2 linked regions of the Homo sapiens genome follow. The protein of the gene in region 2 interacts with the protein of the main gene of each other region in a pairwise test. Each region holds a gene or a part of one and is shown on either strand. Other genes may lie near its edges.

Region 1 (3,051 bases), on a different chromosome or scaffold from region 2:
GGGCTAAGGATAGCAACACAGGAAGGCAAAAGGTGCCTGGTATGTTGATACCACACTGGCTGCACCAGCCCTGGGCTGTCTCCAGTTTTTCATTAAGCAATAAAAAAAAGTTCCCTGTGTGTTTAAACTAGTATCTACTTTGGTTTTTTTCATTATTTGCCACCTAAACCATTCCTCCCTGATAACAAAAAACTAAGAAAGAAGCCTTTCCTTTTCTTAGTAAAGATGTAAGGAAGCTAGTTATGCTCAGGCTGGTTTGGAAGATTATGATATGGGGTAGTGAGTTTGGTGGCTCTGCAAATAAACACAGCTGCCCAGGGCCCCTACTTCTCCTGAGCTGCAGGCCCTGGAAGGTCTTGCAGTCTCCATAACCAAGCAGTGTGGTTTTGCCCCTCAGAGGCTAGCTGATCTACATAGGAGGCAGGTCAGTGTATTTGATCTAAATATTGTTTAGTTGGGTTTCATATGTAAGGGAAACTTACAGTTTTGTTTCCTTTTTCTTTTCTTTTTTAAAAATTTAAGCTGTATTATCTTTTATGTTTTAGGGCCAAAATTCCATTAAATCATGAAATAAATTATATAGCTCCTCTTCCCCCCATTCCATGCTTTCGATCATTTAATGAGGGAGTTATCTTTTTTTGAGTTATAAAGAATTCACTAATGCAGGCTGGGTACAGTGGCTTACACCTATAATCCCAGCATCTTGGGAGGCTGAGGTGGGTGGATCACTTGAGCTCAGGAGTTCAAGACCAGCCTGGCCAACATGGTGAAACCCCACCTCTACTAAAAACACAAAAATTAGCCATGCATGGTGGTGCACACCTATAATCCCAGCTACTCGGGAGGCTGAGACAGAAGAACTGCTTGAACCCAGAAGGGAGAGGTTGTGTGAACCAAGATCAAGCCACTGCACTCCAGCCTGGGTGAGAGTGAGACTCGTCTCAAAAAAAAAAAAAAAAAAAAGAATTCGCTAATGCAAGGGTTCTCAGATGAAAACCATGTTCACAATAACATGACCTATTATATGCCTTTTTCACTCACATTCTCTCACAAGGGAACAGTGCAATTTTTCAAAATATATTTGGAAGATCTGCATGACTCAATGAATTGATATTCTCCCATTGACCAATGGGTAAAGTTAGAAAATCATGCATGATAAAGATCAATTTAAAGTGTGACACAGACCTGAAGATTTCAATAAAATAGAGTAGAAAAATTTCACATTTCAGCTAACCTTTAAGAAACTATCACTTACGGAGTTTTGGTGGACTATCATAGAATATCCACAATCGTTTAAAAAAGCTTTGCCTCCCTCTCCCAACCGCATGTTAGTGATGCTAGGTCTTCTTCAAATACTCCAAACAGGACAACATAGCACAACAGAATGAATGCAGCCACACAAACGAGAAGCCGGCTGACAACTGTTAAGGCAGATATGAAAGAGATCTGTAAAATGTAAAATAATACCACTCACAAATTTCATTTTGTTTTGGAAAATATAGTTACTTTTCATTAAAATTTGTTATTTATATCAACAGGTAATATTGTTCCTTTTAAATGAATAGATATTTTTAAAATTTATGCTATGATTTCTCATAGAATAATTATTTCAGAACAAGAAACAATGAGGAAGAAAATTTTTTAAAAAGAAATAATTATTAATATTCTTTTTTTTTTTTTTTCCAGACAGAGTCTAGCTCTGTCACCCAGGCTGGAGTGCAGTGGTACAATCATAGCTCACTGCACCCCCAACCTCCCAGGCTCAGGCCATCCTCCCTCCTCAGCCTCTTGAGTAGCTGGGACCACAAGCATGCACCAGCTAATATTTAATTTGATTTAATGTAATTTATGTTATGTTTATTTTAATTTATTTTATTGTATATAGTTTTATGTCATGTTAGTTATTTATTTTATATTTCAGCTCATTTCATTTGTTTTTTGAGACAGGGTCTTGCTCTGTTGCCCAGGCTGGAGTGCAATGGTGTGATCACAGCTCACTGCAGCCTTGAACTCCTGGGCCCAAATGATCCTCCCATCTCAGCCTCCTGAGTAGCTGGGACTACAGGCACGCACCACCACAGTTGGCTAATTTTTGTATTTTTTGTAGAGATGTGGTCTTGCCATGTTGCCTAGGTTGGTCTTAAACCCCTGGCCTCAAGTGATCTTCCCTCCTTGGCCTCCCAAAGTGCTATTAATACAATTAACCACATAAATAACATCTCTTCAGATGCCTCAATAATTTTTAAGAAGGTAAAATGGGACTTGAGAACAAAAAGCTTAAGAACCTCTGCCCACGTGGAAACAATTGGTTGGCAGCAATAGGGGAAGATAAGGAGATCAAGTACAAATCCTGGATTTGTTTTTCAATTTCTTCATTGATAAGTAGGGAGTCAGATTCTGCTACTTCCTGTGGTATAATCTTTAAGAACTCACCCTGTTACAGCAGCGTTCAGAGGCAGGGAGGAATTTTATTTCAGAAGCATCACCCTCAATATGCAAAATAGGCCAATATTTCTCCTTTTACATCTTTTAAGACTGGGAGTGAGTTAGTGCCTTACGCCTATAATTCCAGTTCATTGAGAGGCCAACGGGGGAGGATTGCTTGAAGCCAGGAGTTTGAGAATGGCCTGGGCAACACAGCAAGACCCCATTTTATAAGTAAAATACAAATGAACAAACAAAAGACTAAGAGTGATCAAAGCGATTTTTGAAAAGGTGATTATGACTCCAGGGTTGATTCAATTAAGCAATCCTATAAGAGCCATCCTTGAGCAATTTTATATTATACCCACTTCACCCTTTATTTTTCAACATAGGAATAATAACAGGATAAACTTTTGGTAAGGAGTTCAAGGGCTGTTTTGTAGAAAAACAAAACTCAGGATATCAGTTCTTATAGAGCAATGGTTGGCCAAATCCAGCAAGCTGCCTGTCTTTGTAAATAAAGTTTTACTGGAACACAGCCATGCCCATGCATTTACTTCCTGGTCTGTGCTGCCTTCATGCTACGGCAACAGAGTTGACTAACTGCAGTAGAGACTATATTATTTA
Region 2 (3,830 bases):
CAGTAGGGGGCTTAGCTGAGGGCATGTTCTCTATTAGAGCCGATGTGGAGGGCATATAGTTAGGAAAGAGAGAGAGAGAGAGAACAGGAACAGATGCAAATGTAGTTTTCATAATATCAAAGTTCAATACAGCTACCACACAGAAAAAGACATATCAATAATATATTGTACAAGCTTTTACAGAAACACATGTTGATTTGCAACACTGTACAGTTCAGATCTAAAGTGCACAACCCCAATCTGAGGTGACAAGACAGTATTATCCAGATAATAAAGGCAACACAGTCAGAATTGATTTCCTTTTCTTTCCTCACATCCTGTGGCAGTATATGAAGTCCATACCATGTATAGGTCTCAGATAAAGACATATCACACTTGTTTGTTCAAGTATTTTAAATGATAAACACAATATTGCTGTATAAATGAAAATGGCCATGTCAGTTCTGATTAAAGCTAAAACCAAACTTTTCTAAGATTTGTAAAGAATGGGCACACATAAAGACCATGGCACTGGGAATTTGGGCTAATATTAAAAATAATCTCCCTTCTTTCCTCCCTCCCTCCCTCCCTTCATTTCCTTCCTCCCTCCCTCCTTCCCTCCCTCCCTCCCTCCCTCCCTTCCTCCCTTACTCTCTTCTGACCTGATTCCACATCTCCTTTCAAGATGATTTATTAAACTACTGGGACCTACTAGGCTTTTATTTGCTTCCTTCTTTGGGCTACAGTTGGTAAGGATTTCCCTGCACAGGCCTGAGCAAGGCTCTCAGCCAATTTGAAGGAGTACTGGGAAGGGGTAGGGGAGCGGGGAAGAAGAGCTATTGTTGTTGCTAGAATTGTTTTGCTGGAATTTCATATATAGGCACAAATTGTCCTTTAAAATTTTACCATCTCATTAACCTAAAAAGCAGCAGTTTATAATCTAGGATCTGTAACTCAAAAGATAAAGCATCCTGGAGTACAGCAGGGTTGGTTCACCAGGGCACTGGGCCCCACTGTCTTCTCCACGAAGGACAGCAGGTTGGATCAATTAGCATCTCTGTCTCTGAAGTGGAACCTTTGGGCCTGAGGCTCCGGATAGTCGGGCAGCTATGTGCTTATTCTCAGCAGGCAGTTTTGAGAAAGGAACTGCTTTCTAATGCTTTGTCTAATGCTTGGCCATTAGACAAAGCCTAGAATGGAAGGTTACTCCTTCATGAAATTCTGCGGGACAGATGAAAGAGTTTATTTCTGATTGTCATAGTGAACCCATTTGTTTTTCTAGACAGAAAGGGCCCAAAGCCATGTTCATATCAAGTTATCACTGTTTTTGCATATAGCCTAGGAGAAATAATGTAGGGGGAAGCTTATGAAAATTTCAGATGGCTGGATCCTGTGGTTATATTATAGGGCATTTCTCTATGTTATATTGTAGGGCATTTCTACCCGTTGAAGGGCAGGGCCTTCTCTCTTCCCTTGTATACCTGCAGTCTGAGTACTGAACTACCTGGTCCATTCAGAAATGGAGAATGTTCCTAAATTTGCATTTGCAGTCTGCATATCAATCTATTGTTCTCCAATCAGCACTTGGAATCTGACGATGTGTGACCCCATAAATATCTATGGAAGCTTTTGTTAGCTCATGTTTTTCTATCAGGTTCACAGGGAAAGAAGGATGTTTTAAAAATACTATTTTGAATTCTAAGGATCTTATTATTTCTGCATATTCTGGTCACTTTGGATCTCGATGGGAGATGGATAAAGGAAAATCTTAAGATAATGCCTCAAAATCTAGGGTGAGAGGCTCATTTCATGGAAGAAAAACAACCACCCATGGAATATAAAGTAACTATTTTGGGTCCCAGTGGTAGGGAGTCTAGTGGGAGAGACTTTGTGGGGAGGAATGGGGAGGGGATGGAAATGCGCAACTGGCCTGGAGGTAAATTTCTCTTTCCTGGACAGTGGCAATATGGCGCCAGGATGATGTCATTATTGTCCCACAGAGATCTCTTCTCCCAAGGCCAACTTTAATTTTCTGGGCTCACCACATTCTGGGAGTGTGCTTCATTCCTCTTTGCTCAGGCTGATAAGGTTTTATTTTTACTTTCTCTAATTAATTCAAATGACCTAATAAAAGAATACTATTTGGAAGATGCCTCAAGAACTAGCATCAACCTTCTGTTCAAAACAGGCCGAACTGGAAAGCAGAATAGAGACAATTACCCTAATTTAATCTGAGATGAAGCCTGGTTTGTCACGCTTGCAGAGTGAGTCCGCTAAGAGTAAAATGGGTGGAAAACTTAAAGGGGAAGAGAATCTTACTGCCAATGGGATCAATTATTTTAAAGAACTCGCAGTATTCTTTTGTGTTTGTCTTGAAATACTAACTTTAGAGATGTGATAAGCCATAACATGTATAGAAAGAAGCAATAATACCTTTTAAGAATTTCGTGGGTCAATGTTTCAAAATAACTTTGCTAAGTGTTTTATTGTGCCTCCATTAAGAGAAAGGAAAAAAAAATCTGGCTTAGATTTTATATCTGCCCCCGCAGTTTGTATAACCTATATAAAATAAAAATCTATATGTTACAAAATAGGATATCTTTTTTAATATATATATTTTCCTTTTGTAAAATTATATGTATTTAAATACATTTGAAATGTTGCTATAGGTAAATTAGAAATTTTTTTCTAATACTATGAAAAAGGCAAGAGTTTTTATTGTCAACATATATTTTATATTTACTTTGTCCTTTTTACTGCACCCCAAAGAACCTTTTATGATTCAGGGGCAATTTGGCACTATTCAGTCCTACTAGTCTGAAGTGAAAATAAAGTTTGCTTTGCACACTATATTAAAAGTAAGGGAAGTATTTATAACAATTTTAAGCTTTTCCTTATTGATTAGAACATAGCCTTTTGTCACGAATTCTTAGAGAGGTATTCTAAACTTAAGAAAGGACTTTTAAAAGGAGCAATGTCTTTTTTGTTTAATTTTTAAACTCTACTTTGACACCACAATATAGAAATAGATTTACTTTGGAACAAACTACAAATACATTCACACAGTTTGTGACAACTTAATTGTCTACCTAGAGAAGTGGAACAGCTTGGTGAGCAAGGTTATTATAAATCTTGTCCAAGGCGTTCTATTTCTTCAATCAGGAAGTCAATGTCTTGGTGAGTTGCCGCTGGGTTTGAGATGACCATGCGGAAGAAATTGACCTTGTCTCCCAAGGGTTGGTAGCTGACCATTGTGGTTCCATACTCCATCATTCTGGCTTTAATCACTGGAGCCACCTGTGGGACAGACCATATCAGCATGGTGACTTTCTCCTGGGACTCTCCCCTGAGTCAAAGAACCCAACAGCAAGCAGCGTCTTTAGTTTTTAGCTCAACAGTCAGAACCTTATTGTTTTCTCTTGAAAGAGTTACCTCCAAGTTTTCTTGGGATCAGAGAATTAGAACAGTCTAACACATTCAAGATCCTGCAAGTGATAAGAGGAATAATAAGTGATAGACTATCAGCTGCCTGCCACCTTGTCCTTGACTTTCCAGTTAGTGTTTTGGGAGGATGGGATGAATCTAGTATTGGCCCCAAGCTAAATGGGTTAGCAAGACGTTTGGGGGCATTTTCCCCCCACAGTAAATGTAAAAACATTGGAAATAAACAGTTCAGAGGATTGTTACCAAAATGTAAGTTTGAGTGTCAGGTGATATATGAAGATAAGCAGACTTTTGGCAACTTTCTTGAAACCCCAGAGCTTTCTAGTTTCTTTTCGTTCTCTCTTTGCAGTGCCTCACTTTATAAGATATTTTGAAAGATAATCCTTAATAATGATGATAATTAGCTG

The links.
Region 1: the proteins of GAD2 (region 2) and LDAF1 interact in binary tests that used the Homo sapiens proteins (3 or more experiments, as listed by UniProt).

The regions. Positions count from the first base shown.
Region 1 is NC_000016.10:21,175,532-21,178,582, reverse strand, and holds part of LDAF1 (lipid droplet assembly factor 1), read right to left. Parts: intron 1,447-3,051; coding exon of another isoform or gene 1,425-1,446; exon of another isoform or gene 1,422-1,424; coding exon of another isoform or gene 1,349-1,421; exon of another isoform or gene 1-1,348. UniProt on the Homo sapiens protein: Plays an important role in the formation of lipid droplets (LD) which are storage organelles at the center of lipid and energy homeostasis. In association with BSCL2/seipin, defines the sites of LD formation in the endoplasmic reticulum.
Region 2 is NC_000010.11:26,300,234-26,304,063, reverse strand, and holds part of GAD2 (glutamate decarboxylase 2), read right to left. Parts: intron 3,277-3,830; coding exon 3,103-3,276; 3' UTR 1-3,102. UniProt on the Homo sapiens protein: Catalyzes the production of GABA.